3 separate regions of the Homo sapiens genome follow, and all the other regions are linked to region 1. The links come from fine-mapping of genetic effects on gene expression. A gene starts in region 1. Each other region holds a variant in brackets. All regions are shown on one strand. Distances are between the middles of the regions.

Evidence for each region. PIP is the estimated chance that this variant, and not a neighbour inherited with it, causes the effect.
Region 2: its variant is fine-mapped to the expression of BIRC6 in monocytes (TOPMed, PIP 0.99).
Region 3: its variant is fine-mapped to the expression of BIRC6 in fibroblasts (GTEx, PIP 0.97).

Annotation. Positions count from the first base shown.
Region 1 is chr2:32,349,143-32,360,166 of GRCh38, reverse strand. It overlaps BIRC6 (baculoviral IAP repeat containing 6), which reads right to left and starts at 3,144. Exons shown (of 74, transcript NM_016252.4): 1 at 2,681-3,144. The coding sequence starts at 3,005. RefSeq lists enhancers at 1,934-2,446, 2,961-3,473 and silencers at 2,698-2,927, 3,088-3,457.
Region 2 is chr2:32,876,189-32,887,212 of GRCh38, reverse strand. It overlaps LOC105374453 (a long non-coding RNA gene), which reads left to right. Exons shown (of 3, transcript XR_939938.2): 3 at 1,198-1,225. Among named protein-coding and RNA genes, the nearest start is that of LINC00486, 56 kb to the right of the region's middle. RefSeq lists a silencer at 928-1,128. The variant C/T (reference allele first, on the strand shown) is at 4,407.
Region 3 is chr2:32,608,248-32,616,247 of GRCh38, reverse strand. It overlaps BIRC6 (baculoviral IAP repeat containing 6), which reads right to left. Exons shown (of 74, transcript NM_016252.4): 73 at 4,666-4,800. Among named protein-coding and RNA genes, the nearest start is that of TTC27, 16 kb to the left of the region's middle. The variant T/C (reference allele first, on the strand shown) is at 4,953.

The DNA of each region.
Region 1 (11,024 bases):
ATCACCTAGTCTTTATCCCCTCAGACACAGATGTCTTTCCTCTGTGGTAGAAAAGAAAGTGGCCCATTGCCCATAAACGGGAAAGAGGGATTATGTTAGGACCATGATCGCTACTGGCATCTTCTCTCTACTCTATTTATAGGGCTGTCACCCTCTATTAATCATTAAAAGCAAACTTACTAAATACCTGCAGATTCTAAGTAAAACATAAAATGCAGCATTCCCTCCTCAATCATCTGAACTGGGGCAAATAGGACCCTATACAACCTCTGATAATTATTATTAATAACAAACTTCTGGCCAGGTGGGACAGCTCATGCCTGTAATACCAGCACTTTGGGAGGCTGAGGTGGGAGGATCATTTGAGGCCGGAAGTTCAAGACCAGCCTGGGCAACACAGCAAAACCCCATCTCTACAAATACGAATAAATTTTACAAATAATAATAAATTTCACTTCTCATATATGAAAATGTTTCAGAATGCATCCATTGTTAACTTCCAAATTTTTTCTGTAATCCTTCATTCCGTTCACTATAAACCCTTCTACATATTTTAATTCACATACTCAATCTTCATGCATGGGGACCTGCAATTGTATCCAATCCCGAACTCTTCTAATCAACAGATGCCCCAACAAAACCTGTTATCCCAAATCAATGCTACATTTTACTTATCTACCTACACCTTCATGTTATACATCTAAAACCCTCCTCTTTAGTAATCTACCACTAAAGTGAATATTGTCTTTCCTTCCATGTACAGGCACATAAATATATGTCCAATTTCCCCAACCAACAAATCCTGACACACATTATTATTCTCAAACATGGCCTCCAGACATAAAAAGCACACCATAAAATTCCTCTTTCTATCCAAAACACTTGAATACTTTTGTTAATGACTTTCTTTAGAAATCCTAGTACATATACCACTTATTCCAAGTTAAAAATCACAAAAATACTACATCCTCAAGATAGAAACATATACTAGAAAGTGTAGACATATATGAAAAGGATAAAATCAAATTAAAGATAACGTTTATGAAGAGGGAGGATTGGAGAAATGCAGTCCAGGAGAGATTCAGCTGAGATTTTAATCCTATTTGTAAAGTTTTATTTCTTAACCTGAGTTGGGGATGCATGGTGTTCACTGTAATTACTCTTCATACCTTTTCATACTTGAAATACTTTTAAATGACTTTTAAAAAGAAAGACATCCAATTACCAATGAGCATCTCCCTCTTACACACAGTGAGAAGCCATTATGTCCAAGTTGCAGTAACTGTTCACTGCTACATCTGGGCCACCCCATCATTTACCTAAGCCAAGAAAAGAAAAAATTACAAACCTACCTCCCAAAACTTTCTCTTAGATATGTTCCAAGTTTATATCCTGAAACTATACATAATCCAATTCTTTCACAACTCTCACATCAACAATAATTAACATGTCTAATTTCACGTTTGCATCCCTAAATTGCCATTTACTCTTACAAATGCCTTATTACTCACATAGTAAACTTTTCCTTGTTCGTCTACGTTAAAATACAAGTGAATTGGTTGACCACATAACTACTTCCACTTGGCTAAACGCAGACAGTTGTATACATTACATCTCTATGCAGGAGTCCGATTCACTCATACACTAACTTTTCAATCTAAACCTACAACATCCAAATTAAGCCACCCATCATTTAACCACAAATGAAATGTCATCTCCGCCAAATCTAACTCAGCCAGGGCCATTCCAAAACCACTCCAGTCCGTCCACTGAGCATACACCTCACGCATCTGAAAGTCCCGTCCCTGGACCAAGGTTTACGCCACCCAGAAGTGCTCTCCTCCAATGGTGAGACTCAGACACACCTTCAAATCCTAATTTTCGGCTCGCTGTGGGAAAACAAGTAGAGACAGCCTGAAGTTACAAACCCAAAGGAATCTATTTCATACACCACAGGTCCTGACTTTCTCGTCACTGGGGCGTAGAAGTTGGAAGCCCCGAGCAAGGGGACCAGGTCTAGTCGTCTTCGGCGTCCGCAGAGTCCTACAGTCGTCGACCAAGCAGTTCAGGCAGCTGGCCCGCCTACTTCCCTCCCCACCCCCACCACGACCCACCCCACCCCCACCCCACCCCCACCCCCACGCTGGGCGCACAGCCCGCGGTCTGTCCCCCGCACTGCGGGACCTGAGAACAGCAGACTGCCGGCTCCTCTCCCACAAGGGAGGGCTTGGTTGCCGGCTCAGACGCTCCCCGCCCCTCGCCTCCGGCCACCAGCCTCTCCGCCCGGGGTCAACCCTTCCAGCCTTTCGCTCTCATCTAACCGGACGCAGGACCGACAGCCTCTCCAGGGCCTACCCGGGCCTCGCTTCCTCCGGTGCCAAGCTCCAAGGTCTCCTCACCTCTCGCGGAGGACCAAGCCAGACCGGACGCTCCAGGCCCGAAAGGCAACTCCCCTCCCACCACTCCCTGACTCGCCGGTCTTTCCTCCCAACTGCAGCCGCTGAAAAAGCCAAGTCCTAAGGTCCCCCTCCATCAGCTTCCGGGCCTCCCTTCACGGCTGGGCCCGAACCCCCAGCCCTGCCCTCTCGCCATCTCGCTTCCCCGAGTCGCGAGGCCGAGCCCCGGGGCTGGACGGCTTCTTTCCCCGGCTTCGCGCCCGCCCGGCGTGCGGAAGACTCACCACTGAGCGCGGAGGCCTGCAGTGTGGCCCCCGAGGTGCCGTCGATGACTTTGATGGTCCCGCGGCTAGTGACGGCCAGGATGGCGTTGAGCGCAGGGTGGTAGGACAGGCTGTGCAGCCCGTCGGCGTCGCAGTGCATGCAGCCGTCCCGCAGCACCAGCCACTCTGAGACCCCGGCCGCCCCCGCCCCCGCCGCCGAGGAGCAGCCGGGGCCCGAGGCCGCCGCAGCCGCAGCCGCCATCTTCCGGCCTGCGCTCAGCACAATCACACTGGGAAGCGGCTCAGTGACAGTCCCGGGAGGTGCAGCACCACCACCAGTCACCATCCGGGGCCAGGGGGCAAGCCGAGCGCGTTAGCCGGAAGTGAAGTCAGGCGCCCGCACGCACGCGGAACGTCGATCGCCCGGCCGGAGGGGCCAAACTCGGAGGGAGGCTGACGGGAGAGGGGGAGAAGCAGGGAGGGAGGCGGGGCCCGGGGCGCGGGCTGGAGGCCGGCGGGTGGAGCATGCGCGGGAGGGCTCGCGCGTGCCACGCGCCGCGGGTCTGGCCAGTTCCGCGTCCGCAGCGTCCCAGTTTCTTCCTGTGAGCCTGGGGAGTGGCGGCTGCCGAGTCCGCCCCGCTCCTCGCGGGGGCAGGGGGAGGGGTTGGCCTCCGTGCATTTCCGCTAGGTGGGGACCCCCGCCCTTGCGACCTGTCCGGTACGCCCGGAGGCCTTTTGCAGCGGTTCCAGCTGCGCCTTGACCGTTCCCGGTACGCACGGTGCAGCTGTTCGGCCGTGGCCGGAAGCGGACCTCTGGGTCTCGGTCACGGCTCTGGTGTGAGAATAAACAATCAGAAGCCTCTCGTTTGGATTGGAAGGAACCGAGCGACCTTCCCAAACCTGTACCTTTTACCACGCCTGCCCTCCCCATTCCCAAGGCTTTCTGTTGAACAGAAGTACCAGATACGAGGTGCTGGAAGCGCATAGTTAAGCTTAGTTTCTCTATCCACATTCCAAACAACCCGAGTTACCGGAATTAATAGGAGTGTGGGTCTGTGTGAGTGTGTGGTGGGGTGTGTTGGAGGTCTAGAAAGGACTAATCAATTTACTAATCATCCCCCCTTGGAGAATTTTTTTAAAACTTTTTATTTTGAAATAGATTACAGTTGAAAATATACTACAGACCTCTGTGGTCTTTCTCTCCAAAAGCCATAACCCCTATCTAACTATGAGAAAACCATTTGACAAACCCAAACTGTAGGACATTATTTTTATAAAATACCTAAACACTACTCAAAGATAGTACAGAGAGATCCAATTTACTCTTTACCCAGTTTCCCCCAATGGTTGCATATTACATAATTCTAGTACAATCTCAAAAGGAGGGATTTGATAGTTGTATGATGTGTGTATAGTTCAATGTCATTTTATCACATGTAGACCTACGCACCATAGTCAAGATGCAGAGTTGTATGTTCTATATGTTTTGTGATCATTAGGTTATTTTGGAAAGAACTAGTTTTCCTTAAAAACCTAATCAAAGATCTGTTGTGAGGATTAAGAATCATTTGTAAAATGTGTAGAAGAGCATCTGACAAGTATATACTACGTGCTCAATAAAAATTATAAAAGTTAATTGCCCTCTCACATTCATGCGAACTTCCTTCAGGAAATCTTCATGGATTACCTGAACTACATCTTAAACTATTAGCCATCAGGCTACATCTGAAACACTTAGAGATTTGACTGTATTCCTCTCTTCTTGGGGGTCCCTAAAATACACTGAAGTTCCTGGGCCTGCCAGAGAGTGACATTCCTTACTCATCTGTGGTTCTTTTTTTTTTTTTTTTTTGGCTTTTTTGTTTGTTTTTGTTTGTTTATTGAGACGGAGTCTCACTCCGTCGCCCAGGCTGGAGTGCAGTGGCGTGATCTCAGCTCACTACAACTTCTGCCTCTTGGATTCAAGCAATTCTCGGCCTCAGCCTCCTGAATAGCTGGGATTACAGGCACCTGCCACCACGCCTGGCTAATTTTTTTTTTTTTTTTTTTTTGTATTTTTAGTAGAGATGGGGTTTCACCATCTTGGCCAGGTTGGTATTGAACTCCTGATCTCGTGATCCACCTGCCTCGGCCTCCCAAAGTGCTGGGATTACAGGTGTGAGCCCCCGCGCCCGGCCACTCAGGCCACTCACCTGTAAGTCTGGGAACAATCAGGCCAGTTTTTCAAACGAAGACTTTATTGGCTCCATAAAGTCAACCATAGCTCCTTAATGCCATCTGGTCATGTTTGAAAATATGACATTCCAGTCAAAACCTGGTTAATACAACCAGTGCCTCCAATTATGTCTTGTTACAGGAGAACACATTTTTATAGAAATTATGCAAATAACTATATTGCCATAAAAATAGGAATACTTGGCCGGGTGCGGTGACTCATACCTGTAATCCTAGCACTTTGACTAGCCTGGCCAACATAGTGAAAGCCCATCTCTACTAAAAATAGAAAAAAATGAGCCGGGCCTGGTGGCGGGCACCTGTAGTCCCAGCTACTAGGGAGGCAGAGGCAGGAGAATCACTTGAACCCTGAAGGCGGAGGTTGCAGTGAGCAGAGATCGTGCCACTGCACTCCAGCCTGGGCGACAGAGCGACAATCTGCCTCAGAAAAAAAAAAAAAAAAGAAAATGGGACAAGTTGAGTTTACCTACTTAGTAAGGGCTAAAGCTTTTTACCAATATTTGTGGAAAATTCTTTTTACTTTTTTTTTTATTTGCCCTGTTTCAAAACAGTCTCATTTTTTTCTCTCTTTTCAGCCTCAAGTGATTGATTTGGAGGGTCCTCTCAGTCCCTTCAGAGCCCCCAGTGGAGGGTAGGGAGCCTAAAGTGCAAGTGACTGTGGGGCTGGAGTGAGAAGGGAAAGGATCTGGCAGTGGTGGACAAAGTTGGCAAAGGTTATAATCAGTAGGGATTTCTGGTTTCAGAGAAGAAGGGTTTCAGGTGACAGAATTTCCCATGGGAGAAGCAAGATCCAATAGAGAGAATACAGAGGCTTCACAGAGAGCCAGAAAGAACATCCAGCCCAGAAGGTACCTTTCAAAAGAAGCCTGGGACTGTAACACAGTTTCAGAGAATATACTTTTCTTTCCTTTTTTTTTTGAGACGAAGTCCCGCTCAGTCGCCCAGGCTGGAGTGCAGTGGCGCGATCGCGGATCACTGCAGGCTCCGCCTCCCGGGTTCACGCTATTCTCCTGCCTCAGCCTCCCGAGTAGCTGGGATTATAGGCACCAGCCACTACGCCCGGCTAATTTTTTGTATTTTTAGTAGAAATGGGGTTTCACTGTGTTAGCCAGGATGGTCTCGATCTCCTGATCTCGTGATCCACCCGCCTCGGCCTCCCAAAGTGCTGGGATTACAGGCGTGAGCCACCGCGCCCGGCGTTTTTTTTCCTTATTTTAAGAGACAGCGTCTTACCGTGTCACCTAGGCCAGAGTCAGTGGCATGATCATAGCTCACTGCAGCCTCAAACTCCTGGGCTCAAGCGATCCTCCTGCCTCAGCCTCCTAAGTAGCTGGAATTACAGGTGCAAGCCACCAAACCCAGCCAGAGTATACTGATACCTTAAGAATCCACATCTGTTCTTACCAGCTTTGGCAGACATTTGTCTTGAGCAATGGTTCAGGAATCTGATTCACCAAGGAACAATGTAGGGGGTCAGTAGATAGAAAATTACTAAGAGGAAACCTCAGGGGTAAGTGAAACTCTGGCCAAATCAATCTAACAGGATTCTTGCTGAAGACAGGCCACAGTGATCAGACATCACCTGGGAGATGGTGGAGGATGAGGAGCCTGATCAGATATGGAGGAAGAGGGGTTCTTGCTAAACTGACTTAGCTCAGTTTTCTGCTAAAACTAGACTTTACAAGGAAGTGCACGGATGGACCTAGCAGAAGATTCAGAAGTCTGACTAAAGTTTGGCCAAAGAATCTTTGTCATAGTAAAGTCTGGATGAATATCTGATTTTCATAACTGTAGCATCATTGATCACCTCTATGAACTTGGGCTAGTCATACATTTTGAGACTGTTTCACCAAGTGTCAAACGGAGATGATAAAATTTCTTGCCCTAGTCATTTAGGTTTGTTCTAAGTACTTCTGAAAGTACTTGTAAATGGTAAAAATTGAAAAACAGGGCCAGACACGGTGGCTCACGCCTGTAATCACAGCACTTTGGGAGGTTGAGGCGGGCGGATTACTTAAGGTCAGATGTTTGAGACCAGCCTGGTCAAAATGGTGAAACTCTGTCTCTACTGAAAATACAAAATAGGCCGGGCACGGTGGCTCACGCCTGTAATCTCAGCACTTTGGGAGGCCAAGGCAGGCGGATCACGAGGTCAAGAGATCAAGACTATCCTGGCCAACATGGTGAAACCCTGTCTCTACCAAAACTACAAAAAATTAGCTGGGCATGGTGGCACGTGCCTGTAGTCCCAGCTACTCTGGAGGCTGAGGCAGGAGAATAGCTTGAACTTGAGGCAGAGGTTGCAGTGAGCCGACATTGTACCACTGCACTCCAGCCTGGCCACAGAGCAAGACTCTGTCTGAAAAAAAAAAGAAGAAAATACAAAATAATTAGCCAGAAATGGTGGCAGGCACCTGTAATCCCAGCTACTGGGGAGACTGAGGCAGAAGAAACGCTTGAACCCGGGAGGTGGAGGTTGCAAGGAGCCAAGATCGCGCCACTGCACTCCAGCCTGGGGGACAGAGCAGGACTCCAGCTCAAATAAATAAATAAATATTGAAACACAGAGAGGTGAAATGGCTTCTCCATCGTCTCACGGTTTCTGGGGCTGGGGTAGAAATAACCTGGATTTTGAGCTCCAGCAGTTTGATTCGAGAACTTGTACTTCCAACTTAACCCTCTTGTTCAAAACTTCAGGGCCTTGAGGTGAAAGACTGTAAATAATCAAATCTAAATATAAGTGGGGTGTCGTTTTAAAACAGTTTTTAAAATCTTTAGGATAGGCCGGGCGTGGTGGCTCACGTCTGTAATCCCAGAACTTTGGGAGACTAAGGCAGGCGGATCACCTGAGGTCAGGAGTTCAAGACCAGCCTGACCAATATGGTGAAATCCCATCTCTACTAAAAATACAAAAATTAGCTGGGTGTGGTGGCACATGCCTGTAATCCCAGCTCCTCGGGAGGCTGAGGCGGGAGAATCGCTTGAACCCAGGAGGCAGAGGTTGCAGTGAGCCATGATCGCCCCACTGCACGCAAGCCTGGGTGACAGAGGAGACTCTGTCTCCAAAATAAAAATAAATAAAATCTTTAGGATATAGTCGGGCACGGAGGCTCATGCCTGTAATCCCAGCACTTTGGGAGGCCGAGACAGGCAGATCACGAGGTCAGCAGCTTGAGACCATCCTGGCTAACACGGTGAAACCCCATCTCTACTAAAAATACAAAAAAATTAGCCGGGCGTGGTGGCAGGTGCCTGTAGTCCCAGCTACTCAGGAGGCTGAGGCAGGAGAATGGTGTGAACCTGGGAGGTGGAGCTTGCAGTGACCCGAGATTGCGCCACTGCACTCCAGCCTGGGCGACAGAGCAAAACTATGTCTCAAAAAAAAAAAAAAAATCTTTAGGATATAAGTAGAGGCCAGACACGGTGGCTCACACCCATAATTCAAGCACTCTGGGAGGCTGAGGCAGGTGAATCACCTGAGGTCAGGAGTTCAAGACCAGCCTGGCCAACACGGCAAAACCCCGTCTCTACTAAAAATACAAAACTTAGCTGGGTTCAGTGGTTTGTATTTTTAGTAGACACCCCGTCTCTACTAAAAACACAAAAATTAGCTGGGCACCTGTAATCCCAGCTACTTGGGAGAGTAAGGCATGAGAATCGTTTGAACCCAGGAGGCAGAGGTTGCAATGAGCCGAGATCGCCCCACTGCACTTCAGCCTGGGAAACAGAGCAAGACTCTGTCTCAAAAAATAGATATAAAATAATAATAATAATAATAATAATAATAATAATAGGATATAAGTAGAAACCATAAAAACTGCCATTTCAAAGTTTTAATCTCTCAGTATCTCATCTAGCCAATCTTTTTCTTTAATCTGAAAGATTCCCCCGAATAGCCGGGCTCGGTGGCTCACGCCTGTAATCCCAGCACTTTAAGAGGCCAAAGCGAGTGGAGGTGAGGAGTTCCAGACCATCCTGACCATCGTGAAAACCTGTCTCTATTAAAATACAAAAATTAGCCAGGCATGGTGGTGCATGCCTGTAATCCCAGCTACTCAGGAGGCTGAGGCAGGAGAATCACTTGAACCTGGGAGGCGAATGCTGCAGTGAACCAAGACAGTGCCATTGCACTCCAGCCTGGGCAATAGAGTGAGACTCCATCAAAAAAAAAAAAAAGATTCCCCTGAATAAGTCTCCAATGCAATTCAAGCCCCTCATTTTAATTTGTTTCTATTTTTTAAATTAATTTTTCTATTTATTTATTTATTTATTTATTTATTTATTTATTTATTTATTTATTTTGAGATGGAGTGTCACTTTGTTGCCCAGGCTGGAGTGCACTGGCATAATCTCAGCTCCCCTTCTGGGTTCAGGTGATTCTCCTGCCTCAGCCTCCAGAGTAGCAGGGATTATAAGCTCGTGCCACCATGCCTGCTGATTGTTTTGTTTTGTTTTGTTTCGTTTTGTTTTGTTTTGTTTCGAGACGGAGTCTCGCTCTGTTGCCAGGCTGGAGTGCAGCGGCACGATCTCAGCTCACTGCAACCTCCACCGTCCAGGTTCAAGCGATTCTCCTGCCTCAGCCTCCCTAGTAGCTGGGACTACAGGCGCACCACCACACCCAGCTAAGTTTTGTATTTTTTTTTAGTAGAGACGGAGTTTCACCATGTTGGCCAGGATGGTCTCCATCTCTTGACCTCATGATCCGCCTGCCTCAGCCTCCCAAAGTGCTGGGATTATAGGCGTGAGCCACCATGCCTGGCCTGATTTTTGTAATTTTAGTAGAGACGGGGTTTCACCACATTGGCCAGGCTGGTCTCGAACTCCAGACCTCAGGTGATCCACCCGCCTCGGCCTCCCATAGTGCTGTGATTACAGGCGTAAGCCACCGCACCCAGCCTATTTTTATTTTTATTTTTTGAAACAGGGTCTTAGCCAGGTGCTGTGGCTCACACCTGTAATCCCAGCACTTTGGGAAGCCAAGGCGGGTGGATCACCTGAACTCAGGAGTTTGAGACCAGCCTGGGCCTACAAACACTTTAATTCAAGGAATCTGAGCCTGGGTCCTGAATCTCTTAACTGTAGTCTTTAAGGTCTCAGCAAGTTTTCAAACAGAAATACATATTCGTGGCCGGGCGTGGTGGCTCACGCCTGTAATCCCAGCACTTTGGGAGGCCAGGGTGGGCGGATCACGAGGTCAGGAGATGGAGACCATCCTGGCTAACACGGTGAAACCCCGTCTCTACTAAAAAATACAAAAAATTAGCCAGGCGTGGTGGCGGGCACCTATACTCCCAGCTACTCAGGAGGCTGAGGCAGGAGAATGGCATGAACCCAGAAGGCGGAGCTTGCAGTGAGCAGAGATCATGCCACTGCACTCCAGCCTGGGTGATAGAGCCAGACTCTGTCTCAAATATAAATAGATAAATAAAATTTTAAAAAATTAAAAAAATAGAGTGTTTGTAAAGGCCAGGCGTGGTGACTCACACCTGTAACCCCAGCACTTTGGGAGGCCAAGGCAGGAGGATCACTTGAGGTCAGGAGTTTAAGACCAGCTTGGGCAACATAGCGAGACCCTGTCTCTACAATAAAAAATTATTTGGACATGGTGGTGCGTGCCTGTAGTCCCAGCTACTCAGGAGGCTGAGGTGGGAGGATCGTTTGAGCCTGGGAGGTTGAGGCTTCAGGGAAATGTGGTCATGCTACTGCACTTCAGCCTGGTGGCAGAGTGAGACCCTGCCTCAAAAAAATAAAAAATAAATGATTGTAAACATAGAATTGGGGAAGACTGGGTGAAATTCACCATCAGCTGTGTTGTTGATATCTTGTTGCACGTGGTTTTGACAGCAAATACCCTCAACATTGAGAAATGTACTGATTTTCATGACTAGTCTATTTTGAAGTGATGGCCTTTTAAGGGACCACAGCCAAACCATTTTGGGCAGAGGTGGTGAGCACCTTAAGGGAAGTAGAAATTCCTTCATATTGACACTCATTCCGCAAAGAGGAATTTGCTGAAATCAGAAACATGGACTCAGAAAGCAGGTCTGATTGAAGCAGAAAAGCGTTTGAAAAAAAAAAAATCCAACACTCATTTCTCCAGCCTGGGCGAGAGAGCAAGACGCCGTCTCAA
Region 2 (11,024 bases), 530 kb before region 1:
ATCATTCTAACCTTCCTCCCTTAAGAGCACTTCTTGTGAAATGTTATTTCCTGTCCTGGTCACTTCCTCCCTCCTTCCCCTACATCATCCTGAGAGGTGACAACGTGCTAGCAGGCCTCACTCACTCTCAGCACCTCCTCGGCCTCGGCATCCACTCTGGCCATGCTTGAGGAGCCCTTCAGCCTGCTGCTGCACTGTGGGAGACCCTCTCTGGGCTGGCCGAGGCTGGAGCCGGCTCCCTCTGCTTGCAGAGAGGGGTAGAGGGAGAGGCACAGGCGGGAACCAGGGCTGCGTGCAGCACTCACTGGCCAGTGCGAGTTCTGGATGGGCGCGGGCTCAGTGGGCCCGCACTTGAAGCAGCCGGCCGGTGCCGCTGGCCCCAGGCAGTGAGGAGCTTAGCACCCGGGCCAGCAGCTGCGGAGGGTGCGCCAGGTCCCCCAGCACTGCTGGCCGGCCCGCGCCACGCTCAAATTCTTGCTGGGCCTCAGACGCCTTCCTGCGGGGCAGGGCTCGGGACCTGCAGCCCGCCATGCCCAAGCCCCCCTGCAGTGGGTTCCTGCATGGCCCGAGCCTCCCCGACAGGCGCCGCCCCGTGCTCCACCGCGCCTGGTCCCATCAACCGCCCAAGGACTGAGGAGTGCGGGTGCACTGTGTGGGACTGGCAGGCAGCTCCACCCATTGCCCCGGCGCAGCATCCACTAGGGGAAGCCAGCTGGGCTCCTGGGTGGGGTGGGGACTTGGAGAACTTTTATGTCTAGCTAAAGGATTGTAAAGGCACCAATCAGCACTCTGTGTCTAGCTCAAGGTTTGTAAACGCACCAATCAGCACCCTGTGTCTATCTCAAGGTTTGTAAATGCACCAATCAGTGCTCTGTGTCTAGCTAATCTAGTGGGGACTTAGAGAACTTTTACCTCTAGCTAGAGGATTGTAAATACACCCATCAGCACTCTGTGTCTACCTCAGGGATTGTAAACACACCAATCAGCACCCTGTCAAAACGGACTAATCGGCTCTCTGTAAAATGGGCCAATCAGCAGGATGTGGGTGGGGTCAGATAAGGGAATAAAAGCAGGCTGCCCGAGCTAGCAGTGGCAACCTGCTTGGGTCCCCTTCCACAACGTGGAAGCTTTGTTCTTTCGCTCTTTGCAATAAATCTTGCTGCTGCTCACTCTTTGGGTCCACACTGTCTTTATGAGATGTGACACTCACCGTGAAGGTCTGCAGCTTCACTCTTGAGGCCACCGAGACCACGAACCCACCGGGAGGAACGAACAACTCCGGACAGGAGGAACGAGCAACTCCAGACGCGCCGCCTTAGGAGCTGTAACACTCACCGCAAAGGTCTGCAGCTTCACTCCTGAAGCCAGTGAGACCACGAACCCACCAGAAGGAAGAAACTCCGAACACGTCTGAACATCAGAAGGAACATACTCCGGATACACTATCTTTAAGAACTGTAACACTCACCACGAGGGTCCGCAGCTTTATTCTTGAAGTCAGTGAGACCAAGAACCCACAAATTCCAGACACTATCCCACCTAGAAACAGTTTTTATAAGTCCTCCATTTCTGAGCCAATATTGTACGTTTGCTCAATAAAGTCACTCTCCAGCTATGAAGTCTCTGCTTAAAAATTGTGTTAGAATGTGGAAGATCTGCAATGAGAAGCATCGGGTGGCTGCTGTGTTGACTTCTGGCTCTACTATCTGTCTATAAAGTGAGTCTTAACAGGCTTTTAGCTGCTCCATGTGTTAGTTTCTCCACCTGTAAAAGGGGCATATAGTTGACCTGTTCTCTCATTAAGTTTTTGTGGGAATCAATATATTATGGGAATAAAAATAAGTTTGTAAATAAAAAGCACTGAGATAGATAAGGAATTATAGTGACCTTTGGCCAAGTTGTTCCTAATCGCGTGCCTGATGTTGTGAGGAAAGAATAAACAATGTCTCATTTCATCCTCAAAATGAGGTACCTTTTATTATTCCCATTTTACAAGTGAGGAAACTCAGGCTTATAGAAGTCAAAAACTTAGTAAGTGGTAGCAGTGATAATGAACAGTCAACAATTCCTGAGGGCTTACTATGGGCTTGGCACTGTTCTAAGCACTTTACATGTATTGATTCATTTAATTCTCACAACAACCCGATGAAGCAGGTTTCTATTATCCCCATTTTACAGAAGAGGAAATTGAGGCACAGAAAGGATTCTACAGGCTGGGCTTGGTGGCTCATGCCTGTAAATCGCAACAATTTGGGAGGCTGAGGCAGGTTGATCACTTTAGCCAAGGAGTCCAAGATCAGCCTGGGCAATGTGGCAAAACCCCATCTCTAAAAAAATAATAATAATACAGAAAATTAGCCAAGCGTGGTGGTGCATGCCTGTAGTCCCAGCTACCTGGGAGGCTGAGGTGGAAGAATCACCTGAGTCTGGGAGGTCGAGGTTGCAATGAGCTGAGATCACACCACTGCACTCCAGCCTGGGCGACAAGAGTGAGACCCTGTCTCAAAACAAACAAACAAACAAACAACAACAAAAAAGATTCTACAGCTAGTAAATGATATAGTTGGCACTGTAACCCAGATCCCTCTCTGTCTCTTTCTGGGTCTTTTTAAACTATTAAACTGCCCACACCATGACTCATTCATTTGACAGATATTTATTGAGAATATACAGTGTGTTATTCATTGGTCTAATCACTGCAGATCCAGTAGTGAATAAGAAAAAAAAAATCCTGCTGTCATAATGCTTATATTAACAAATATAAAGGTAGGGCATGATGGCATGCGCCTGTAATACTGGCTACTGAGGAGGCTGAAGTGGGAGGATCCCATGAGGCCAAGAGTTGGAGACTGCTGTGAGCTGTAATTGTGCTACTCCACTCCAGTCTGGGCAACAGAATGAAACCCCGTATCTTAAAAAATAAAAATAAAAAGGCTGGGCACAGTGGCCCACACCTATAATCCCAGCACTTGGAGAGTCTGGAGGATTGCTTGAGGCCAGGAGTTCAAGATCAGCCTGGGCAACATGGCAAGACCCCACTGTGATCCCAGCTATTCGGGAGGCTGAGGCAGGAGGATTGCTTGAGCCCAGGAAGTCAAGGCTGCAGTGACCCGAGATGGTTCCACTGCACTCCAGCCTGGGCAACAGAGCGAGAACTTGTGTCAAGGAAAAAATAAAACCAACCAACCAAACAAAAACAAATATAAGGCAATAATGCTATTGCTCTTGCCTTAACTTGGAAAACATGTGTCTCTGCTTAGAGTACCTCTTTCATTTACGATCACTTAAGATTTTGTTTCTTCTTTTAAGGGGTTATGCCAGCAGTAAACTGTGGAGTGCGGTATTGCTCTCACTTGATTTGCTGGTTTGTTTTATCCCAGATGTCGGAAAAAGGTGACTGAAGGTAGGCACGTCCTCCTCAAGAGCTGGGGTTAACCTATTCACAATTATACATTCCTTTCTTACTTTTCTAGTACCTCTCAGTCTTTTCAACCTCTGCTGTCCTCACTGGCAGCTGGTTCCAGCACCTCCTCATTGAGAAGAATCAGTACTCCCTAATGAACATACACATGTCCAGGCAAGGCGGGGCCAAACAGACCACAAGACTCTGTTGTGAGTGGATGTGATGCTCAGAGCTGCTGCAGGATGAAGCCCACAAAGAGAAGAGGACAAATCCAGAAGCCACAGAGAAGTGGAACCAGAAGCCCAGTGTGCCTTGGGTGAAGCACGGCTACTTAAGCATTTGTTACGCAAGATAATAAATCTCCTCTTGGCTTAACCAGTCTGGAGTTGGATCTGCAGTTACTTGCAACTAAAAGCATCCTCACTGATACAGCATTCCAAAGGCCCCTTTGTTCTTAAGAACATGTGTGCCTGGGAATCTCTGCTATAAACTATTCCATTTCCAAGAAGGATTCTTCTACAAGCCAATGAAATTCTCACTCTTTGTGGTCGAATGCCCTCTGTCTGCCCTCTTCTTTTCTTAGCTTTATTTCCTTAAGGGACTACTCAAAGACACTTGGTACGCTGAAATAACTCTAGCATTACCAAAAGCATTTAGTAAAGCTACGTGATGCTGACTGGAGACACTTGAAGAGAAAACAATGCTTTGAATTAAAGCACGTTTTCTAGTGTCGATGAATAACACATAAATAGGACCCACTTAGCCATCTATCCCCACTGTGTTATTCATCTTCCGGCTGCTTTGGTGAGTGCCAAAATGCTTCTGGGAGCTTTCTGAGCACTTCTTTCCTTTCCATTCCTTTCCTGGATTACATTCAAAAGATCTAAAAACAAACAGGCATGTTAATTACTAAGGGTTATTATTTTCTTCAAAGCCTCAAAGCTCTAAAGAATCAACACTATTTATTTTCTGAATTCACTCACCACAGTTTCAAACCAGCCAA[C/T]GTGGAGACAATCTTCAGTACTTGCTGAAAATGTGCTTTCACTGTAAGCTTCAGTGCCCTGGAGCAGTGCTGTGAGATCCTTCTATGAGCTCTAGGCAGCAATTAAGTCTATTTCAAAAGATGTGCAGGTAAGATTGCTTAGGAGTAGGAAGTCCAGTCAATTCCAAAAATAATATAATGTTGAAATTTTCCTTGCTTACCCCAGGAGGAAAATGTTCTCTGCTTTGTCAATTCTATAAATTACATTTTTTCACTTTTGGAATGGTAGGTCCAGAAAGCGCAGAAAATAATAAAAACAATACCCATATAGTAGCCATAATGATTTAACAAGTGCTAACATTTGGCCATATTTGCATCACATGTAATTAATGATGGATATCACTATTTGACTCATAAAATGAATTGTTCCATTAAACTAGTCCCCTTTCCATTTTTCTCTTTAAGAGACATTTATAATTAAGCCTTTAAATTCTGAGCCTTTTGCAACCATGATTTCAGAATAGAAGAGTAGGGGCCAGGAATAGACCATAAATGCTCCAAATGGGACTTCAACAAGCCTTCATTGCTACCTGGAGTTGGGTCATGGCTGGTGAGAGTCTATGTGGGATATTCACATGGGACAGTTAGAAGATATAAATGTTCTGTAAGCACCAAAGTTGTTAGATCTGAATATCTTGAGCTTCATGGAGATTAAAATTCTAAAGTTACTCAGGTCTGTGTTTTGTTGATTTCGTTCAATGCACGCATATTCTGACATTTCATTTTACAATGATCTTCATTTTTATTTTGATTTTTTACTATTTTACAAACTGACATCAACTCTTTATTAAAAAAAAAACCTTTTTTTATAACAAAAAAGATAAGTTTTTTCCATAATAATAAAAAGTTGGAATATAGGCCGGGCACACTGGCTCACGCCTATAATCCCAGCACTTTGGGAGGCCAAGGCGGGTGGTTCACTGAGGTCAGTAGTCTGAGACCAGCCTGGCCATCATGGCGAAACCTCGTCTCTCCTAAAAAAAAAAAAAAAAAAGTATATATATACACAAAAATTGGCCGGGCATGGTGGTGCATGTCTGTAGTCCCAGCTACTTCGGAGGCTGAGGCAGGAGGATCACTTGAACCTGGGAGGTGGAGGTTGCAGTGAGCTGAAATTGCACCACTGCCCTCCAGCTTGGGTGACAGAGCAAGACTCCGTCTCAAAAAAAAAAAAAAAAAGTTGGAATATATACAATGGGTGAGGCTGTCCAAAACCTGCCCCATAAAGTAAGAAAAATTTTGACAATTAACAAAGATTCATTTTTCAAAGGCCTATTAATCATAGATTAATTAAACAATTATCACTCAAAAGGTACCTACAGAATTTTCACCTCAATCTTTTATCGCAAAAACAGTGGAAATCTATAGTCCAGAGACCTTCTTTAATAATGAGCCACTGATAAACACAATATATATATATAATTCATATAACATTTCTTTCATGTTGTAAATTTTTTTCAAGCATTATACAATAATGAATTTGCAACAGGCTTTCAATATTATTTACAATATTTCCTTCCAGTACGAGTTTTCACATGACTTTGAAAGTAATTGTTAAAATTGAGAACTTTTCTGTATTTTCCACACTACTCGGGATCCAGTCAGGTGTGATTCTCCTGTTTATAGGGTCCATCTTGTGTGCATGATCACGCGTCTATGAAAGGATATGGGAAAAGCAAAGGCATTCCCACATCTCATACATTCACAGAGCTTCTCTCCAGAATGAGATATTTTAAGTCAGCAAATGCAACTAAAAGAACTAAATGGGCCAGGCGTGGTGGCTCATGCCTGTAATCCCAGCACTTTGGGAGGCTGAGACGGGTAGATTATCTGAGGTCAGGAGTTTGAGACCAGCCTGACCAATGTGGTGAAACTCCATCTCTAATAAAAATATAAAAATTATCCAGGCATGGTGATATGTGCCTGTAGTCCCAGCTACTTGGGAGGCTGAGACAGGAGAATTGCTTGAACCCGGGAAGCAGGGGTTGCAGTGAGCTGAGATTGTGCCACTGTACTCCAGCCTGGGTGAGAGAGCGAGACTCCGTTTCAAAAAAACAAAATCAAACAAACAAAAGAACTAAATGCCTGACCACATTTCTTATACCGTAAGGCTTTTCTTCAGTGTGAGTCCTTTCACTTTTTCAAATCATGTTTCTTACAGTTATAGGTTTTCTTTCTCCAGTTTGATTGCTTTCATATCTTTGAGGAAAACTGGGAAAATTAAATATTTTCCCATATTGCTTACATTTGTAGTTTTTCTCCACTATGAGTTCTTTCATGTTTGCAATGGTAACTGGAACAGCCTAAAGCTTTACCACATTTTTTTTTATACTTTAAGTTCTAGGGTACATGGGCACAACGTGCAGGTTTGTTACATATGTATACATGTGCCATGTTGGTGTGCTGCACCCATAAACTTGTCATTTACATTAGGCATTTCTCCTAATGCTACCCCTCCCCCCTCCCCCACCCCATGACAGGCCCTGGTGTGTGATGTTCCCCATCCTGTGTCCAAGTGTTCTCATTGTTCAATTCCCACCTTTGAGTGAGAACATGCGGTGTTTGATTTCCTGTCCTTGCGATAGTTTGCTCAGAATGATGGTTTCCGGCTTCATCCGTGTCCCTACAAAGGACATGAGCTCATCCTTTTTTATGGCTGCATAGTATTCCATGGTGTATATGTGCCACATTTTCTTAATCCAGTCTATCATTGACGGACATTTGGGTTGGTTCCAAGTCTTTGCTATTGTGAATAGTGCCGCAATTAACATACGTGTGCATGTGTCTTTATAGCAGCATGATTTATAATCCTTTGGGTATATACCCAGTAATGGGATGGTTGGGTCAAATGGTATTTCTAGTTCTAGATCCTTGAGGAATCGCCACACTGTCTTCCACAATGGTTGAACTAGTTTACACTCCCACAACTGTGTAAAAGTGTTCCTATTTCTCCACTTCCTCTCTAGCACCTGTTGTTTCCTGACTTTTTAATGATTGCCATTCTAACTGGTGTGAGATGGTATCTCATTTTTGTTTTGATTTGCATTTCTCTGATGGCCAGTGAGTTTTTCTCCAGGATGATTTGGATCTTCATTTTAAATGATATTTATACACAGTTTGAATTGCAGAAATTTAAAACGAAACTATCTCTTCTCCTACATAATTAACCCACACAGTCACATCTAATCATTGCAGGGCTTAAACGACTTTTTCCAAATATGAACATAATAAAGTCCCCACAGCTCCCATGCCAGTCATATAGTCCTGTTGAAATGTTTTAGGGCATTTATAGATTTCTGTTGCTTTTCTCTGGTTTACAATCATCCTAGAATAAAAGCAAAGTTCAAAAGAGGGTAAAGTACAATATGTTGACAGATACAGGCATTCCTAACAAGAGCTGGTCTCTGTAATAGTCTACATGCCTAGCCAGAAGAATGCAAACCAACAATTGCTTATTGATCCCAGCAAAATCGTGCATCTTTCTCTCTTTGGGCATACATATTGTATCTTGGAGAAGCTCGAAAAATCAGAAATCGAGTTATGGAAATAGATAATGGTGATGGTTAAACAATACCATGAAAGTGCTTAATGCCAGTGAGTTGTACAGTTAAAAGTGGCAAAAATGGTAAATGTTATGTATATTTTACCACAATAAAAAATTCTTTAGATTAGAAACATTAAAATATCTAAAGAATAGTTGAATAGTAGGTCAAGTGAAGTTTTAAAAAAACTAACCATTTATATGGCTTTTGGGCAAACAGCACTTTCGGAGTTGACAAGGTCAAGTTTCCAAGTACCATGGGTAGTTCTATTTCTCAGACACTCTGTGGATTGAGGCTGCCTCATGCTTTTTGCTTTCTCCACCAGGAAAAGAGCAAGCTATCTGATGATTAAAACAGTCAGTGATTCCAAATTTACAATATGGTTTTCCTCTGCCTCTGGACAGGACCCTCTCTGCTATCTTCTCCTGTCTGGCCATCTCCAGTCAGTCATCTGGTCTCCTAAGTCCACATGGCATTATTTGATATTAAGATATACAATTTTAATCTGTGTTAATTCATCCTTGTTTACTTTGAAATGCTTTTTCCTACTGGCATATTGTGTAGATTGGGTAACTGTGGAAAAGCCTTAATAAACTGTATGTGGATTTTGTTAAACATTTAGCATCTGTTTTCCAAAATCCACTAGTGAAGGACTCAGAAAAGCTAATAAGGTGACCAGTTCATTTTATGACAGGGTCCTGTCACCTAAGAACTGTGTGCCGTATGTGCCCCAGAAATAGCTGACTCTAACCAAATAGAAAAACAAGCCATCCGCATTTTTTCTTGCCATGGCCTTAGTTTACAACCAGCCAATATATGATGAAAGTTTATGCTCCTTTTCCACGTAAGTTATTTTTCCAACTAAAAATTGTTCCCAGCTGTTCTGACCCAGATGTGTTGGCAGTCCGTACTGTGAGGGCCTTTATACAGGTGATGAAGTCCTCAGACAATAAAGTTTACACGACTTGTATACAGCTGGTCTCCAATACAACTTTGGACCTACAACACCCTTTCCCCCACCAGAAAAAAGCAGCGGTTTCCTGACACTTCACTCGGGGCACAGTTCAAAGGGGATTTCAGTGCTGTAGGCCCAAACTTGTGTAGGCCCTGGACTTAGGAAGGAAAAGTAAGACAAATTACCCAGTTTTCCTCTTCCCCTGGAGAATTCAGCCTGCTGTAACTGAAAATAGCTCCAGCAAGAAAATGACCAGAAATTGTCCCTGGGATTTGGCTTCCAGGAGAGGTTAGCTGGGATATCTGAACGCGCCCACTGAGTTGCCATCTGTCTTTTAGCTTCACATTGTCTCATTTTTAACTGCAGCCTCACCCTTTCCTTTACATTTAAATGAAAGGTCATTTTTAGTACATAGAGGTTGTGTGTAAAATCAGTGCAAGATGATGTTTCATCAGGAAGTTGTAGGATAAGCAGAGCAATGGATCACAATTGGGGTGACTGTACATCCAGGTTTTCTCAAGACAATCCCAGGCAGTTGACGTCTATCGGGCACTTCATTGTTAGAAAAACATTAAAACAGTGGAATTCGACAAGCTGGGATGGGTTTAGTAGCCCTCTCCTTGGCATTCTCAGTTGCCAGCAGTCTTGAACAATAGTGATGAGACCTGTGCAATAAACTGAGTTCTCACTGTAACTCCTGATAAAAATCTAAGGAAGACCAGCTATAATACCCTTCTCTCTTTTCTCAACCATTCCCTGATAAGGTGCAATTAACACGGTCTCTGAAAGACAGCTGGACAAATTACAGTGTGTCCAGTTACAAGTTTCCAGGGACTCAGTGGCGTTGGGAGATGTACTGACCCTGCTGCCAGCCACCTTTCACTAGTGCCTGCTGTAGCCTGGGAGGTCCATGAAGCTGCCTGGCCACATGTCAGCAGGGTCAGTGGGAAATGTGCGAAAGTATAGTTTAGGTGAAGTGAAATATGTGCAGGAAAGGGAGGCTGAGTAGCCCATCACAGAGCACAGAAACCGTAGTTTGAATGTTCTTGTGTACAGTGGTTTTGTCACTTACTTTATAATTTATCTACAACCTTTATTTATTGCATTGTTTGGTAACATACATTTCTTTTGCAATAAACCCCTTGGCAGCAATCAATCAGCTTGAAAAGGTCAAAGCACATTTTTAGTGAAAAATTAAAATATTAGGTTGTAGATGAATGTGTAACTTGCAAAAAATATTTGTTGATATCTAGCATCCACTGCTGGGATGTCATAATGATAACACTGGTCACCTGAAAACCAGAAAACGCGAATTTTCTGAAGAAGCATCAGAATTTACTTCAAAAGTCAGTAGTTACCTTAAGTAGATCATGCCCAAAGATTATTATAACACACACAGCTGCATGAGGTGTGTTTTTATATTATTCTGCGAAGCTTAATTTTTCACATAGATGCAATAACTGTTCTAAAATAATTTCATTCATTTTCCACTCCCAATTTTCTGGTGCATGCCTGAAACATTAAGTATTAGCTGCAAATGAGTCTCCTTTAGCAGAATGAGTACTGTGTAAACAGTGACATGACACCAGTTTTATTTCAATTTGATTGAATATATTTATGTTATAAATATGTAACATAATGTTTTGAAGTGATATATGAAGTGATTACTACAGTCAAGTCAATTAATGTATCTGTCATCTCACAGTTATCCTTCTTTGTGTCTGTGGTAAGAGCATGTAAAATCTACTCATAGAAAATTTCCAGTATGTAGTACAATATTATTAGCTACAATCATTATGATGTACTTCCACTCTCTAGATTTATTCATCCTATTAACACATAACTGCAACTCTGTGCCCTTTGATCTACAGCTCTCCATTCTGCACCCCCTGCACCCACTTCACCTCTAGTAACTGTCAATCTACTGTTTCTATGTAGTCAACTTTTAAAAAATATTCCATGTATAAAAGAGATCATGCACATTTTTCTTTCTGTGTCTGCCTTATTTCACTTAGCATCCATGCTGTCATCAGTGGAAAGATCTTCTTTTTTAAAGTCGAATAATATTGCATTGTATTGATC
Region 3 (8,000 bases), 260 kb before region 1:
ATCATTAGAACTTTTTAAAAAATTAAGTTAAAAAGAAGATCATAGAATTTTAAAAAATTAAGTTAAAAAGATCATAGAAGAACAAAGAACTGCACCCAGCCTATCATTAGAACTTTTTACAAAATTGAGTTAAAAAGAAGATCTATAGAGATTAAATAAACTTTGCTTTGCTCTATATTGCAGTTTACGTAAGGATATAGGCATGTTAATTGGGAGTGGCTGGTTGTCTAACACATGCAAAGATTTGGTTCATAATTTTCTGGTGAGAGAGAAATGACCTTAAATAATCACACCAAAGGCTTTTAAAATTGTGTCGGCCGGGTCTGATGCCTCACGCCTGTAATCCCAGCACTTTCGGAGGCCATGGCGGGCAGATCACGAGGTCAAAAGATCGAGACCATCCTGGCCAACATGGTGAAACCCCGTCTCTACAAAAAATACAAAAATTAGCTGGGTGTGGTGGTGTGTGCCTGTAGTCCCAGGTACTTGGGAGGCTGAGGCAGGAGCATCGCTTGAACCAGGGAGGCAGAGGTTCCAGTGAGCTGAGATCGCACAGCACTGCACTCCAGCCTGGCAGCAGAGCGAGACTCCATCTCAAAAATAAAATAAAATAAAATAAATAAAAACTAAATAGTGTCAACAGCTGACTTTGAAAATTAAACAACATTTATTTACAGAACAATTTTTATGTATGAGGCACTGTGTTAAATACCAACAACATAAAGGCAATGAGTAGAATGAGGATAAAATCTTTAAGCTTATGGAGTCTAAAATTCTGGCTGAAATTATAAGACACATAAATAGGAAAAAACAACTCTACCTTGCAGCTATTTGCAAAGTTTCAAAGCACATTTACATGCCGGTAAGTGAGAATTTCCCTAGCCTTGATTTTCCTTCCACTGTGGACAACAGGTGAAATCACTAACCAGGGAAGGAGAAAGAAAAATCTGGCAATCATGAGAACTGAGTTAAGGTTGGGGATTGATCTAGTTTGGATATTTGTCCCTGCCCAAATCTCATGTTGAAATGTAATCCCTGTGTTGGAGGTGAGAGAAATGGGGATCATGGGGACAGTTTCCTCATGGATTGGTGCTGTCCTGAGATAGTGAGTGAATTATCACGAGATCGGGTTGTTGTAAAGTGTGGCACCTCCCACACCCCTACGCCTTCGTGATTCCGCTTCATCTTCCACCATGAGTATAAGGTCCTTGAGGCCTCTACAGAAGCAGAGTAAATGCCAGTTCCATGCTTCCTGTACAGCCTACAGAACCATGGGCCCATTGAATGTCTTTTTGTTATAAATTACCCAGTCTCAAGGATTTCTTTATAGCAAAGAAAGAACAGCCTAATACAGGGATACTATGATTTTATTGTGGAGTCAAGCTAAACAACTACATACTTTTCATTTATTTTTTAAGACAGAATTTTACACTCGTTGCCCAGGCTGGAGAGCAATGGCGCAATCTCAGCTCACTGCAACCTCCACCTCCCGGGTTCAGGCGATTTTCCTGCCTCAGCCTCCCCAGCAGCTGGGACTACAGGCATGAGCCACCACACTTGACTAATTTTTGTATTTTCTTTTAATAGAGTTGGGGTTTCACCATGTTGGCCAGGCTGGTCTTGAACTCCTGACCACAAGTGATCTGCCCGCCTTGGCCTCCCAAAGTGTTGGGATTATAGGCGTGAGTCACTGCGCCTGGCCAATTGTGTATTTTTCTTGTGTAGCACTCAACAGCAAATGTACAGTTAAAATGATATAAATTTGGATTAATTCAGAGATGGAAAATTCCAGGTGACAGTGACACAGAAGAAATAAAGGAATGCGGATATAAGCAAGACACTGAATGAAAAGAAGCTGGACTTGAGCCAGTTTTGTGTAAGTGAAAAACATATCTAAATACATATTTGGGGAAGATCAGCCTGGTAATGCACTAAAGAAGGAACTGAAAGGGGGAGAACCTGGTACAAGGAAGCTGGACAAACAGACAAAGCTGTGGGAACTCAACAGAAATCATGGGTTGGGGAGAGGACAGTCCCCTCATGAAGTAATACTGACAGGACCTAGTACTGACCAGGGGTGCTGGATGAAGGATGAGATACATAATACTTGAAGATTCTAAGACAGAGAAAAATGGTTTAAAATCAAGTAAAATTAAGTAAATAGAAAGCTAGAAAACTTGATTTGAGGAAAATCTCCTTTAAGGAGATGATGACAGGGTATCTATGTAAAAAATGTCAGTAATACAACTCAAGAGAAAGCTAACAGCTGACAACAGTTTGAAGTGTCACTTTTAGAGAGTAAATGGCCAAAGTCAGGGTTACAGACACAATGAAGGAAAAACAGAAAGACAGAAAAAAAATAGTTCTGAAGGCCAAAAAGTAAGCCTTCAGGTAAACAATTGCTCAGGAAAAAAGAAAAAGGAAAACACACTGAAAGAATTAAGAAGAGTATAAGCAGAAAAGCCAAGATAGTCTACAGATGAAAAGTATAGTACAAAAGACAAACATTAGACAAATGTTATGAGTGTTTTAACAGGTAGACGCAGAGGGTTAGAAATGCTTATACTGAAATGATCTAATAGTCTATCAGTCAGGCGGGGCGCGGTGGCTCACTTGAGGTCAGGAGTTCAAGACCAGCCTGGAGTTCGAGACCAGCCTGGCCAACATGGTGAAACCCCGTCTCTACTAAAAATGCAAAAATTAGCTGGGCATGATGGCAGGTGACTGTAATCCCAGATACTCAGGAGGCTGAGGCAGGAGAATAGCTTGAACCCAGGAGGTTAAGGCTGCAGTGAGCTGAGATCAAGCCACTGCACTCCAGGCTGAGCAACAGAGCAAGATTACATCTAAAATAAATAAATAAATAAAATAAATAATGAAAATAAAAATACAAAAGTTAGCCAGGTCTGGTGGCAGATGCCTGTAATCCCAGCTACTCAGGAGGCTGAGGCAGATAAATCACTTGAACAAGGGAGGCGGAAGATGCAGTGAGCCAAGATCATGCCTGAGTGGCAGAGAGAGACAGTGTCTCAGAAACAAACAAACAAACAAACAAACAAACCAGTCAAGGCAGGGTTCCATGAAGTGAAATTTAAGCTGAAATATGAATGGAGGTGAGCAAGCAGAAGAGCTGAAAAGTAGAGGAAAATGGAAACCATGTGTAAAGGCCTGGAGGAGGGAGAGCAGATGAAGTGAATGGAGAAGTGAGCCAGGGTCACTGGCGTTGAGAACTGGAGAGATGGTAACTTTGGTAAAATAGAAGTCAAACTGCATAAGGTTGATTAGTGAGACAAAGGTTAAAAAATGGAGGCAAGAAGTGTCAACTGCTATAGTCTGACGGTGAAAGAAGACAATCTGTTTCATAATAATAGGGGCAAAATAGAACTAGCTTAGGGAAATTTTCTGCAAGTGTTTTTCTCTCTTTTTCAAAACATTTTTATAGTGAAAAAATTCAAACATATGCAGAAGTGGGCAGAAGAGTACAATGAAGTCCCATGAATCTATCACACAGCTTCAACCATTATCAACTCATGGCCCATCTTCTTTCATCTATATTCCCACACTTTCCCCTTGTCATTTTATTTTGAAGTAATTCCCAGACATCATACACTTTGTCATTCACAAATATTTCTGTACATGTCCTGAAAAGATAGGGATCTTTTTAAAAATCACACCTAAAAAACTAACAAATCCTTATCATCAACTAGTTGTTTGAAGTGAAGACAGCTTTAAAGTTAGAAGATAACAAGCCAGTAGAAATGGAAAAACCTGAAGATAGAAAAGGGAGGATATTGGTGGAGGATGAAATGAGTAAAGACATTCAGATGCAGGAAAAAAGGAAGGCTGTTACAAAGAAAGATCTCCGTGGGTAGACAGAAAATCTTCCAAACCAATCACATTTCACATTTCCATTCTATGAACGTCCAAACTGAAAACAACTGCTTTCTCCCCTAACACAGCCACTGCCACCATCAGCTGAGGGAGAATCTGCAACTCAAATCTCCCTCATCACTCCAAGTAATAAAATTCTGGAAGGCAGGAGGCCTAGGGAAAGACTAAGGGAATAAAAGAAGTCCTTCAAGTCTGGCACGGTTGCTCATGCCTATAATTCCAGTGATTTGGGTGGCTGAGGTGGGAGGATCACTTGAGCCTAGCCTAGGAAACAGGGTGAGACCCCATCTCTACAAAATTGAAAATAAAAAAATTTAACTGGGCACTGTGGCAGCTACCTGTAGTCCTAGCTACATGGGAAGCTGAGGTGGGAGGACTGCTTGAGCCCAGGAGTTCAAGGTTACAGAGAGTCATGATGCCACCACTGCACTCTAGGCTGGGACAACAGAATGAAATCCAGTCTCAAAAGAAAAAAAGAAAAAGGAAAAGGCATTCATGGAGCACATCTTGTCATCATTATCTTCAAGGAACTTTACAAAACTCTGTTGTCTCAGTCCTTGGACCCACTTTTTATTTTAGGAACTGTCAATCTACTACCAAAAAAAAATGTATCTTTTCTATAGACTTCTGAGTAACAATTTATTCCTCTGAACTGAAAATACATATTATGTTTCTTTAATTCCCTCCCTCCCATTATCTTCTGGTAGGCATGGTTCTGTCAATAATTACACAACTCTTAAAGCAACAAGGCTCCTGTTAGAGAGGCTTACTCACCTTGAGAGCTGCTGCATGGTGAGACATAGTCCTGCCTACCCGCTTATCACTGCTGTACTGCTGGATATCCGCAATCCACTCCTCACATTGGGCCATTATCTCAACTCTTTTCAAGTAAAAATGTTTGTGTATTACCTTGAGAAAAAGTAAACAGGAGAACAAGCAGTGTTTACAGTCAAATTTAAAAGACACAGTAAATGACATTACAAAGAAGTAAAATGTATTATAAATACATTTAAATAATTTATTCTATAAATACATTTAAATTAATATTTAGAATATTATTA[T/C]AAATACATTTAATGAAATAAATATACAGACACTGCAATGTTTTTCTATCCATAAAACTCAATTTGGGAGGCTGAGGCAAGAGAATGGCGTGAACCCGGGAGGTGGAGCTTGCAGTGAGCCAAGGTCGCGCCACTGCACTCCAGCCTGGGCGACAGAGCAAGCCTCCATCTCAAACAAAAAAAAAAAGGCAATTTAATCAACTCTACAATATTAGCAGGGAAAAATCAAGCTCATGATTTGATATGACGTGTTGAAATATATGAAATTTATGGCCCGGTGTGGTGGCTCACGCCTGTAATCCCAGCATTCTGGGAGATCAAGGCAGGCGAATCACAAGGTCAGAACTAAAAATACAAAAATTAGCCAGGCATGGTGGCAGGCACCTGTAGTGCCAGCTACTTGGGAGGCTGAGGCAGGACAATTGCTTGAACCCAGGAGGCAGAGGTTGCAGTGAACTGAGATCCCGCCACTGCACTCCAGCCTGGGCGACAGAGCAAGACTCCATCAAAAAGAAAAGAAAAGAAGAGAGGAGGGGAGGAGAGAAAAGAGAAAACAAATTTATAGCAGAAAAGAGTGTACAATTGTGGTCAGACACTTGGAAAATTAATCCTGTCCAGAGACCACAAGACACATATGATACAATATACTCAGAAGGCAAATGCTAAATAAGTAACCAGGCGAAAAGATTTAAAAAGTATTGACAACAGAGAAATTTCTGCCTTTAAAAGATAACTCAAAGAACACCTAGATAAGTATATTCTAAATGCCAAAGGCATTCACACAGAAATCCCCAGAAATGGCACTATTCTTACTTGCTTAATTTTATCTTCTGTTTAATTTATAGATGGGATTTTATTTTAGGAAGTTAAATTTCCTTATTATTACTGTGATTTACATTTGCGATTTTTAAATTCTATCTTTCAATTCTATCTTTGAAAAACTGAGTAAAATTTCTACCAACATATAGTAGTAAGAGTCTATTTCTGACAAATTTAAATTAGAAAACAATTATCAATTTGGAAACATTGCTCTGTATTCTGGTTGAGCATTGCCCAGGGAGCATGTCTGCCCTAAAGAACAGACAATCAAACCTATAAAGGGAAAATCACTAGAAAGCTCTGGGAATGAATGTCAAACACCAATACGATCCCACCACATTTAATAGTTATTGGGTTTGAAGCCTCTGGGATACAGAAGTAAGTATGACACAGCTTTAAATGAAGAACAGTGGTAACAACAGAATCAGATGGGACGGGAGTGTACCAAAAAAATATATTTTAAAGAACAACAATAAACAAAAGCAAAAAGCCCAGGGCATTCAAAGAGTAGCGAGTGGCATTTGATTAGGAAAACTGGGAAAGCATACATGGCCAAGGAGTGGCCCCTTTAACGCAAGCTAGGTTCTAAAGAATGAGAAAGTTGATTGTCTCAAATTATACATATTTGCTTTTTGTAAAAGTCATCCCCTTCTCTGAGTTCCCTGTGTTTATCCTTCCTGAAAAAAATGATATGCATAAAACAAATTACTTTTTTTTTTTTTTTTTTGAGACAGAGTCTCACCGTGCTGCCCAGGCTGGAGTGCCGTGGCGCGATCTTTGCAAAAGTAAAGTATCCAACTTTGTCATTCAAAGGACACTGGAATATAAATTTACTCAGTAACAGCAAAAGCCAAAGAAAAAGAAATATTCATCAGTGCTATCTGATGAAGGAGGTGGCTTCATAGTATTCATGTAGAACATCTGCATAGTTATATTAAAGATCAATTTTATATCAGGTAAATATACCATTTTTTCCTCTAAAATGTTAACTTTCCAGCACAATTTAAGAAATTAATGATCAAGTGAAACAATTTTAAGAAAGAAAAATGTTTCTGGACACAATCACAGCAAGTTGTGATGCTAACGTCATTTGATATGGCAGGTGAAAAGTATAATTCTATTTAGGTATACTATGGAGAGACAACTAATCACAGGCAAAAAGCTACACACACACACACACACACACACACAGAGCCACACTTCAGGATGACGTGAAAAAAACCACTTCAGTGTATTAATACAGGTTTTGGAAACTCATATCATCCAATTTTTTTCCTAAAGAAAAGGAAACGTGGCCAGGCGCAGTGGCTCACGCCTGTAATTCCAACAGTCTGGAAGGCCGAGGCGGGCGGATCACCTGAGGTCAGGCATTCGAGACCAGCCTGGCCAACATGGTGAAAACTGGCCTCTACTAAAAAATACAAAAAAAATTAGCCAGTTGCGGTGGTATGCGCACACAGTCCCAGCTACTCGGGAGGCTGAGGCATGAGAATCACTTGAACCGGGGAGGCGGAGGGTGCAGTAAGCCGAGATTCCGCCACTGTATTCCAGCACAGGCAACAGAGCCAAGTCCTATCTCAAAAAAATAAAAAAAAGAAATGGCATTCTCCTTATATATACACATTAGAATAAGGGCAAAATTTCTATTTGCAAGACAACTTTAGAAACCATCTTCAATAAAAAACAGTTCAATGAGAAATATATCAGAAACATATTTAGAGAGTTTGCTAGTAGAAGGGTAACTAATAAAAATAAAGAATAGGCCGGGGCGGTGGCTCACGCTTGTAATCCCAGCACTTTGGGAGGCCAAGGCAGGTGGATCACCTGAGGTCAGGAGTTCAAGATCAGCCTGGCCAACATGGTGAAACCCCGTCTCTACTAAAAATACAAAAAAATTAGCCAGGCGTGGTGCCACATGCCCGTAATCCCAGCTACTTGGGAGGCTGAGGCAGGAGAATAGCTTGAACTTGGGAGGTGGAGGTTGCAGTGAGCCAAGATCATGCCATTGCACTCCAGCCTGGGCAACGAGAACGAAACGGGATGGGACAGGAGGAAAGGAAAGGAGAGCAGAGGGAGAGGAGAGGAAAAGGAAAGGAAAGGAAAAAAACTTCTCAAAAATTTAGTCAGATGTCTTTTAGAATATAGATAGTTTTATACTTCATCTGTACTATCTACTACCATTTTTTTTTTTTCTGAGACTCTGTCACCTAGGCTGGAGTGCAGTCATGT